2 separate regions of the Homo sapiens genome follow, and region 2 is linked to region 1. The links come from fine-mapping of genetic effects on gene expression. A gene starts in region 1. The other region holds a variant in brackets. All regions are shown on one strand. Distances are between the middles of the regions.

Region 1 (5,372 bases):
CTGAGGCAGGAGAATCACTTGAACCAGGGAGTCAGAGGTTTCAGTGAGCTGAGATTGCGCCACTGTGCTCCAGCCTGGTGACAGAGCAAGATTCCATCTTAAAAAAATAAAAATAAAAAGAGGAAGGAAGGAAGGAAGGGAGAGATGGAGGAAGGGAAGCAAGGAAGGTGGGAAATTTCATACATGAATGTATAGATGAATGGATGAATAAATGGATAGATGGATTGATGGATGGATGATGGGTGGGTGGGTGTATGGATGAATGGATGATGGATGAGTGGGTGGATGGGTGAATGACTGGATGGATGGGTGGGTGGGTGGGTGGGTGGGTGGATGGATGGGTGGAATGGATGGATGGAGGATGGGTGGATAGATGAATGGATAGACGGGTGGATGGATAAGTGGATGGTGGATGGCAGAACAAAAAAAATGAGTTGGTCTCTTTCTGCCATCTTTCTGAGCTGCTATAATGGTGCATGTGAACGTCCTGGCCAGTGTTCTCAATAGCATCAACATGCTGAGAAGAGAAGCAAATACCAGGTTGTTTTAGGTTGTGTTCCAAAATCATCATCTAGTTTCTAAGTGTGATGATGAAGTTTAGTTTACATCAGTGAATTTGCAATCATCAATAATCACAGAGCTAGAAAAATCACTGTGGACCTCACAGGCAGGTTAAACAAGTGTACAGTGACAAGCCCCAGTTTGATGTGCAACTCAAAGATCTAGAAAAATGGTACCCCTATCCCCTTTGGTTTCATTGTCCTGACAACCTCAGCTGGTATCAGGGATTGCAAGGAAGCAAGACAAAAATACACAGGAGGGAAAATCCTGGGATTGTTTTTCTAGGGATGTAATAAATTCATATGAATAAAATGCCTCAATGGACCAAAAAAAAAAAAACAGTTCATGATTGATTGCTTTTGCTTTTGTCCTATTGACTTCCCCATTGGTATCTGAGCCATCCCTCCCATGAATTGTGGGCTCCTTGGTGGCCAAATTCCTTCCCTCTCCTTGGAATTCTTTTCTCCCCAAGTTCCCTGGGAGCAGAGTGTTGCATTCCCAGATGTTCCAAACCCAGTTGAGAGGGGCCATTAAGGGCCACTCTGCACCAGATCCTCAGCTGGGTGCCATCCAGTAGTCACTCAACAAACACAGAGGCAGCATGGTGCTATGGGAGGTGCAAAAGCATTTGGGACTCAGACCCTAGCTCTGCCACTTACTCCTTGTGGGAACTTGGGTAAGCTACTTAGCCTTTCTGAGCTTCAGGAGGTTTTTTGTTTCCTTGTGTAAAATGAGGACAACATTACCTTCCTTGTGGGGCAGTTATGAAGAGTAGTAAGTATTATTTAAGTGCCTGGCACATAATAGGCACTCAGTAAATGACACCCTTATGTAATGGGGCACCAGCCACACCACACCAAGATGAATATGATGGCTATCTCACTCTAGCAGGGACAGATTTCATTTAAGAGGCTAATTGTGATACAGGGTGTCATGTCAAGGTATGGGCAAAGGAACACAGAGGAAGATGGGGTGAATTCAGGAAAGGCTTCCTGGAGGAGGTGACATTTAATCAGACCTTAAATAGCATTCGACAGGAAGTCCAGAGACACGAGTTCTTCTTTCCAATTTGCTGCTAAATCACCATGCGACCTTGAGCCAATCTCTTCTCCACTGTGGGATCCCCAGATCCTTCTACAACATAAGCTGGTTGAGCACCTGCTCTGAATCCGTTCAGTCACAGTCTCCTGTGAGAAGAATCTGCTGACAGCCAGAGCCCTTCTTCCCAGACATACAAGACACACAATGCCTAGACACACAAGTTTGCCTGTAATGGGAGAGGGGGACTTCATGGACCCCAGAAGGCCATCCAGGGACCCTAGGCTAAAATCCCAGAACTCAGTGATCCTGTGGGAGTATCGTCAGACTTGGCCCTGCCCTATGCAAAGCCTCTCTCTTTAGTCTACAGCAGGTGAAAGCAAGCAGAATCATTGACCCAATCTGAAAAAGCCCATCCAACACTGGGCTGCAGGTCAGAGCAGGGGCCTGGGGAGGGGAGGTCCCTCCAGCTGGCCGGAGAGCCAGAGCTGGATTCTGGGAAAGCACCCCTGAGCAGCCTGCCCCTGACCCTGCCTAGTGTATCCCCATCTGCCCCGGGGAGGCAGGCGTGGGCTGCTCTGGGCAGGCGCCCAAACAGGCCACTGACCCCCGTCAGCCACCCAGGCTGGAGTTCCCGGACGCATCCTTCATCTTCCCCAATCTAAACACCCCCAGGCCCCAGGTGGTCCACCCCCCTCCCAGCCAATGTGTGTCTCAGCCGCATCCAGCTTGCTGGAGGACAGGGGGACTGGCCATCCCGTTAACACTTGAGCCGCTGCCATTTCCAGCCTTCCCTTCCATCCAACCAATGCTCACCCACCATTTATTGAGCACCAGTTGTTTGCAGGTGGCTGTGAATGACATGGCAGAGGGCCTGCCCTTCTCTTCCTCCAGGATCTCACCTCCTGGCCAGGGTCCCCTCCCCTGGTCCCACCCCTCTCACCTGGAGCAGGTGGGTGCTTTGGGGGAAGTGGGCTCAGGGCTGGGAACTGGGTACTGGCAGGAGATTCAGATCGGGGTTGGTGTCTGGGCATCGCTCTAAGCTTTTGTGATCCTGGGCCTGGCTCTTACTCTCTCTGGCTTCAGTCTCCTCATCTGTACTCTTCAGATTCCACGGTTCCAACTGAGTCTGAATCAGGCCTTGTCAGCACCCTCCCACCCCCAGGAATAGTTAGAGGAGGAAAGGAGGCTAGCTCTGAATGCTTCAAGATCTTTCTTTAGACAGTCTCTGGATCTTATTCATTCATTCAAGCATTTATTGAGCACCTATTCAGTGCCAGGCCCTGGACTGGGAGACTGGAAATAAAGATGACAAAGATTCAAGCCGGTGACTCCTAAACATCCCACTCCCTGCCTCACGCTCTGCTTGGGGTCAGAAGGCCCCTTGGGGTCTCGGGAGGGCCTGGCCGAGGATTTGGGGCGCCCCGAGACTCGCGTGTCAGCGCCGGTGGCGCTCAGGGCCGAGATCTGTCTCCTCCCCTTCCTCCTCCTCCGCCCCCTCCCCTCTCCCTCCCGGAGCACGGCCGAGGCCTCCTCCCACCCGCGAGATCCCGGCGGCCGCCAGCCGGCTCCTGCGTCCGTCCGTCGGCCGGGCAGTCTGTCCACGCGCGGAAAGCTCGGCGCGGCGGCCGAGGGGCCTGGGAGGGAACGGGCGCGGAGGCGGGACCGCGGCTCCCTCCCACTCCGGGGGGAGCCCAGGAGGCGGCGGTGCTGGAGCGCGAGCCGGAGCCGGAGCCGGAGACGAAGAGAGGCGGTGAGAACGCGGGTGCTTAGGGACCCCACCCCCGGCTCCCGCTGGGGGCCCGCGAGCGGCTCGGGGACGTCTGGGCTGGGGAAGCGGGGCTGTTACCCCCAGGGCGGGAGGCAGAGACGATCCAGCTCCTGGCTTCGCCCCCTCCGCGACGCGACCCCCGAGGGGCCCTGGGCCGCGCCTGCAGCGCCGCGCATCCCCGTGCTTCCCGGCGCACCCCAGCGCACCCGGCATCCCCCCGGCAGGGCGAGGGCCCCGGGGGAAGGGAAGGCTCCGGGAGCCAAGGAGGGCGCCCCCCAGGCGGAGAGTCTCGGAAAACCGCGCCCCCGGCCCCTGCCTTCCCTCCAGGCCTGCCCCAAGGGAAAGCGGGCGGGGCGACCCCGTACGCCCCCCTTGCTGTCCCCCTTCGGTTCCCCATTGTTCTCAGCCGAATGCTCTCCTGGGAAGGGGGGAGGGGGTGCTGCGCTCTCCTCTTAAAGGGCCCTCTCCCCTCTTGTCTCCTGGCAGGTCGCGAGCACGAGTGGGGTGGGGCGTGCCCACGGGCCCCCGCCCCCCTCGTCCCCCTCGTCCCCCAGCCCAGCTCCGGAGCCGCAGTCCAGGCGCGCCGCCCGAGGGTCCACGCCGCACCCCTCCCCCGTGCGTTCTGCGGCCACCCAGGCCTTCCAGGACACCGTGGAGAGGGAACAAGGGGGCAGGGACGCCCCCTTCGGCAGGAGCCGTCGGAGAAGGGGGCCCAGACCGGAGGGAGGCGAGAAGCCCCACTGAAGCCGGGCGCAGGGTCTGGGACGCAGTTGGGAGTGCAAAGGGCTGGCTGAGAGCCGCAGGAGCAGCAGGCTGTGGCCCAGGCCTCCTGGGTGACAGGCCCTGTCTGGCGGGGAAGAGGGACCAAGAGACAACACGGAAGAGGCTGGACCTCGAACAGGGGCGGCTGCCTCACTCCCTACCTGAGCCAGCCGAGGGGGCCAAGGACTTTAGAGCTGTTTCCTCCGGCATAAGAGAGACACTTGCTTTCCAGGGCAGCACCCTTTATCGGAGAAGGCTCTACAGGGAAGGGGTCTTTGCAGCCTGGATGGCCATCCCACATTCCTTTAACGGAGGTCTCTAGGCCTCAGAGAGAACCCAGAGTTAGAAAGGAGGCCAGACGGTCCTTGCTGTCCCCCTGGGGAGAGAGGAAGTTGCCGCCTGCTGCCAGGCCCAGGAGGAGCTGGGCCTGCAATAGTGGGGGACCTGGCCCCTGAGGCAGTGGCGGCCATGTCACGGCCAGGCCACGGTGGGCTGATGCCTGTGAATGGTCTGGGCTTCCCACCGCAGAACGTGGCCCGGGTGGTGGTGTGGGAGTGGCTGAATGAGCACAGCCGCTGGCGGCCCTACACGGCCACCGTGTGCCACCACATTGAGAACGTGCTGAAGGAGGACGCTCGCGGTTCCGTGGTCCTGGGGCAGGTGGACGCCCAGCTTGTGCCCTACATCATCGACCTGCAGTCCATGCACCAGTTTCGCCAGGACACAGGTGAGCAGACACCCACCCCATGCCACCCGCCCCGCCGAGCCATCACTACCTTGCAGCGTAGGATGCTGAAAATCCCAGTAAATCTGCTGATGCCAAATCCCTTCCCCATCTCCCTGCCTCACCTCCAGAAAAACAGGGCAGTCTAACCTTGTCCAGTTTAAGACTTGGATTCCAATGCAGCCTCTGAGCAAGCTGTAGGGCCTTGAGCAAGTTGCATCATCTCTCTGAGCCTCAGTTTCCTCATCTGCAAAATGGGTAGATCAATATCTCTCACAGCTGAGTGAGGATTAAATAAAATTGTGCTCACTGAGCACAGAACCTAGAACAGCAGTAGCATGGGATTGTAGAATAAGGGCTTTACATGCACTTCCTCATTTGATTTTTCCCAAGAATCACAGGCAGTAAGTCTGTGTATTGTTGTATTATTATGAGTCCCATTTTATAGATGAAGAAACCGAGTCTCCCAGAAGCTGAGTGATTTAAACTCAGAGCTGGGATTTAAACCCAGGCGGT
Region 2 (5,372 bases), 33 kb after region 1:
AAGTACTGACAGGTACACTGTGAAGTCAAGGACCCCACCAGGCCCCTGGCTGCCCACCCTCCCCCACTTTTCTGCCCCGCTAGCCACTGGTGTGCAGTGACTGTCACCCCGCCTCACCGCTGCTGCAAGGTCAAACCAAACACTCCCCCCACCCTGCCCCCCACCTGAAGCACTTCCTGCCCTGCTCCCTGGGAGACCAAACCACACACACTCCTGTCTGCACGTGGCTGCCCCGGGCCGTGGGAACAGCCGGTCCTGCCCTCCCCTCCCCTACCTGACCGGTCCTCCCTGCCCCCAACCATCTCCTCCCGTTCCTTCCCCCGCAGAGAGCTGGGCAGGCTGGAGGACCGGGAGGGTTGAAGAGTGACCCCCGCAGCCCCCATACCTCTAGATAAATCTGAGCCTCCAATACCACTCACACCTCAAAATGTCTCCCGAGGGGACTTTTACATCCTTTAATCTCTAGAACATGGAAGTAAGGGGTCTAGAAGACAGAAGTAAGGGGTCCCATTTCACAGAGGGGACACTGAAGCCCAGAGAAGCTCAGAGGTTTGTCTAGGCAGACGGAGGTGCTGGGGTAAGGAAAGGGGAAGTGAGGACCCCAGACAGCAGCTGAGGAGGAGTCCATGGGCACCTGGTCCCCCGGGCTTGCAGCGATGTCCTTCAAGTCTCTGCAGTGGGGGTGGCGGCAGGGACTTGGCCCCAGGCTGTGTTCCCCAGGACTGTGGGGGGAGGAGGGGGAGAAGGCAGCTATGAGGCAGAGACAGCCCTGAAAGTGGGGAAAGGTGACAGGCTCACACCCCTAGAAAGGAGAAAGGGAGAGGGTGGGGGGTCCCTAAAGCACTGTTCAACTTCCTTCTCCCCATAAAGTGACATCCTCACTTCTGCCCCCTCCTCACCCACTTGGCCCCAAATGACTGAGTCCTGAGGCTCCTGGGGCTCTTTGGGGTCTGCTGGGTAAGTGTGAGGTATCCTGAAGGGGGCCAAGGCCAATGGGGGACCTGGAAACTAGCATCAGAGAAAGTAACAAGTCTAGGCCTGCTGGGGGTGGGAGGGGAGAGATAAGGAGACCAGACTTTGGAGGAGGGAGGGGACTTGGCTGCCCTAAAGGGAGGGTCAGTTGTCAGTGTTTCGGGATCCTGGACCCCTCTAGGGGACAGAGAGAGGTGGCCAAAGCAGGCCAATGGATCCAGTTAGACAGCCCTGATCTACCCTGCCCAGGCCTGAGCCAGCTCCAGGATCCAGGTCAAAGACTTCAGCCCACCTGTAGAGCACAGAGGGCTCTCTAGGCTGGCTCAACTCCAGATGGCTCCACAGACCAACCTGGCAGGGTCAGCCCTGGCCCCTGACTCGGAAACTCCAGGACCCAGTGCCAGCTGCACCACCAACCAGCTGGGTGACCTTAGTGAAGTCATTTCCCTTCTCTGGGCTTCAGTCCCATCATCTGCAAAATAAATGACAAATAGAGTTCATCTCATGTGCCATCTCTGCTCCAGGGCAGTGACTTCCTGGAGCACTGTGTTGAGGAGGATTCTGAAGTTGCATCTTGGCTTAGCGGTAAGGCATGCCGAAATTGATTAGTAATGCCTGCTGTGGGTGCTAGGAGGACAGTAGTGGTATGCACTCATATATTTGACATTCCTGCTCTAACTTTGTCTGGCAGAAGAGGCGGCGTGGACCAGATCATACAGGGCCTGGTCATGCTTAAAGAGGGATAACATTAGGAGATATATCTAATGTAAATGATGAGTTAATGGGCGCAGCACACCAGCATGGCACATGTATACATATTTAACAAACCTGCACGTTGTGCACATGTACCCTAGAACTTAAAGTATAATTTTAAAAAAAGACTATAATGTCAGGTCGTGATTAGTGCTATGAAAAAAGAATTCAGTAAGGTAAGGACAAAGATGGGCTTTTTAAAAATAAAGTGGTTGCGGCCAGGCACAGTGGCTTATGCCTGTAAACCCAGCACTTTGGGAGGTCGAGGAGGGAGGACTACTTGAGCCCAGGAGGTCAGGTCCAGACCAGCCTGGGCAACACAGCGAGGCCCTGTCTCCTCAAAAGTTTTGTTGTTGTTGTTGTTGTTGTTGTTTAAGCTGGGTGTGGTGGTGTGTGCCAGTAGTCCCAGCTACTCAAGAGGCTGAGGTGGGAAGATCGCTTGAGCCCAGGAGTTCAAGACTGCAGTAAGCAATGGTTAAGCCACTGCACTCTAGCCAGGACAACAGAGCAAGATCTTGTCTATAAATAAATAACTAAATAAAGTGGTCGGGAAGGTGTCTCAGATAAGCTGACATTTGAGCAGAGACCTGTGCTAAGTGAGGGAGTGTGCCATGAGGATATCTGGGAAGAGCACCTTGGGAAAGGGTCAGCAAGTGCAAAGGCCCTGGGGTGGGAGTGTGCCTGGCATGCTTGAGAAAGAGCAGAGAGACCAGGGTGGCTGGAGTGGAGTGGGAGAGGGGTGAACACATAGGAAATGAGGTTCAGAGGGTAGATGGGGGCCAGATCAGGAGGCCAGGTGTTAACTGTGAGCAAAGTGGGAGCTGCAGGAGGAGTGAGAGCAGAGGACAGATGGGATCTGATTTGGGACTGGGAAAGGCAGAGAGGCTTGCATGGCAGTGGGGCCCATGCCTGCCTTCTGGTCAGAGTAGATTTCGGGGAGGGCCTGAGGGACTCCTCAGGTCCTGTGCCAGCCTGGGCCCCCAAGAAGGCAGAGCTAGGGGTGAAGGCTGGCTCCCCTTCCGGGAGGCCCGCAGGCAGCGGTCGCTTGTCCAGG[CAGG/C]AGGATGTTCTCACTGACTCGGAGGAAACAGCGTGTCCCACATCAAAAGGGGGCCGGGTGGCTCCCACGCTCAGGGTTCGTGGGAACTCTGCTACCCTGGGTTCTCGCAGGAGGCCTGCAGTTAGAGAGAAGCTGGAGACTACCTCGGGACTGTCCCCCAGGCTCACTGATGGGTAAATAAATAACAGTCCCACAGTGACACCCCACTCACAGTGCTCTTCCCAGGAGCAAGACTGACTTTTGTAATCTAGGGCTATGTGGTATTTAAGGGGCTCCAGAAATTTTAGGGCAGCTGAGATCTAAATCCTTCCCTTCCTGGAGTACCCTCTGTCTAACTCCTAGACCAAACACTCAGCAAGAGCAGGGTTACCCACTGGGCCAGACTGGGCATTATATAGACCTGGGGTAGCAAACTGGCTATACTGATTGATAGAGGCTGCTTGGAGAGCTGTACTGAGGACTCTGCTAAGCTTGAGAGAGTGCTGTGATGGATTAGTGATGTCTGCCACAGGCAGGAGACCAACCAGTGGTGGTATGCATGCTCAATATTTTTCTTTCCACCCAATTTATAGGTAGTCCTGGAGAAAAAAAGAGATACTTTCTTCTTGTGAGGCAGAAAGGAAGAAAGAGGGGTGAGGCAGACCTAGACTTAACCAGGTTGTCTGCACTAGAGGTGCTTGAAGAATGGGCAGGAAAGAGGAAAAGCTTGAGGGAAATGCCTCTATGCATTCCTATAAAAGTATAGAGAGGGAGGAAGTTAGAGTGGTGACAGCTGCCCCCCTGAGGAAGGCCCTGGAGGATTATGACAGACCCTGAGAAGGGTCAAATGAATACTCAGTGCCCCTCTTCCTGGGGCCCCCCCGCAGGGTGCCCGACAAGAAAATCAAGACACCTCCACTCTCATCCCTGCGCCAAATGATGAGCTTTACATGTTTTAGCACATTTAACTTTCACAGGACTCTATCCCCATTACAGGTGGGGAAACTGAGGCACAGTGCTTTCTTCCCACCTCCACTGACCAGGTCCTGGGGGACCCAGGGTACCCGCCATCCCATCCTGCCTCCCTCGGGAGCTGTGTTCATTGACTTCCATCACACCGGCGCCTCCTCAAGGGGCTCAATCCAGATGTCTGCTCCAGACCTCTCCACAGCCCTCAGAGGGGTCTGGGATGGGAGTCCTGGCCACGTGATACTATCCTGTATAGCCGAGCAGCCACCAAGTGGGTGTGTGTGCGCTGCACCTGTGTGCATGTGTGATTGTGCCTCTGCATGTGTGCAGGTGTGGGCCTCCCAGGCTGAGTGTCTGTGTGTCAGTGTCAGGAGGTGTGGGTCAGAGCATGTGCGCATGTGTCCTCGTGTGCAGTGAGTCAGCGTGTCCTCCTGCGCCCCCATGCATGATGTGAATCAGTACGCACGAGTACTTCCCCACAGGCGGTGCGGAATCGTGTGTCCGCGTGTGGACGGCAGGCCGTTCTGCAGGCTGCAGCGCGCCGGGGGCTTGTAGGGCTGAGCGCATGCTCCTCTGGGTTTGCTGCCCACCTTACCCAGCTCTGTGCAGCTGGGGAGAGGGGCGGCAGTAGCAGGTGCGGTACTGGTCTACATGAGCCACCGACTCTTGTCCAATGGAGTATCCTCCCAGGGGAGAGCTGTGTGTGCTTCTGTGTGTATGTGTGTGTCCCCGTGTGTGCACAAGTCTCTGTATGTAGGTGTGGGGAGGCATTCCCTGGAATATGTGAGTGTGTGTGTATCTTAATCCATGTATGTTTGTGGGGGGCGTGCCCTGAAGTGTGCCTGTGTGTATCCATGTATATGTTCATGGTGTGCATTCCCTAGTGTGTGCGGTATGTTCCCCAAGTAGACGGATGGGGAGGGAGGCTCCCTGGTATCTGTGTGTCTGTGTGTGCATGTATCTGTGATGTACTCCCTGGGTTGTGTGTGTTTGTGTGTCTGTGTACTTAAACATGTGTGTGTAATGTGTCCCGGGGAGTATGATAAGTCTGTGTGGTCTTCTCCATGCATGTGTGTATATTTGGATCTGTGGATCTGTGTGGATGGTGTGTGCCCTGGGTGTGTATGTCTGTGTGTCTGCACCCACTGCAGCAGTACCCAAGCCTGCCAAGGGCACCATTTGCTTGAAGATGCTTTCTGGTGCCAACTGTGCCTGCCAAGGACAGGTGACCAGACAGCATTAGACAGGCTGTGACCTGAACAGGCACGGCCAGAGCCAAGGGGGCTGCTGCAGCTCCTTCTCCAGCTGTCACTGCTCCCAGCCCTTCCTGCCCCCTCTCCTGGCACATCCCCCAAGGCCTTCAGGCTGACCCCTGGATTTCAGAACACCCCTCTTCATCAGAACGTATCCAGCCTGGGTTCCATGCCCATCAACAGCAAGACACCAGTTCCCCTGCATAAACAGGTGCTGAAGTCAGGAGGACTCAGGCAGACACACTGTACACATCACCGCAAGCTCTCCTTCAGTCCTCCCAACGACTATAAGTGAGGTGTTAATATGCCTGTTTTACAGATAAGGTAACTGAGGATCAAGAAGTTAAGTGACTTGTTCAAGGTTGTCACTGCAGCAGTTTTGTGGTTTC

The links. PIP is the estimated chance that this variant, and not a neighbour inherited with it, causes the effect.
Region 2: its variant is fine-mapped to the expression of DTX1 in whole blood (TOPMed, PIP above 0.99). The same link has a PIP of 0.9 or more in blood mononuclear cells.

Annotation. Positions count from the first base shown.
Region 1 is chr12:113,053,593-113,058,964 of GRCh38, forward strand. It overlaps DTX1 (deltex E3 ubiquitin ligase 1), which reads left to right and starts at 3,138. Exons shown (of 10, transcript NM_004416.3): 1 at 3,138-3,352; 2 at 3,857-4,859. The coding sequence starts at 4,601. It also overlaps the pseudogene RPS15AP32. RefSeq lists an enhancer at 4,376-5,164.
Region 2 is chr12:113,086,768-113,092,139 of GRCh38, forward strand. All of the region lies in intron 3 of DTX1 (deltex E3 ubiquitin ligase 1), which reads left to right. Among named protein-coding and RNA genes, the nearest start is that of DTX1, 33 kb to the left of the region's middle. RefSeq lists a silencer at 57-146. The variant CAGG/C (reference allele first, on the strand shown) is at 2,780.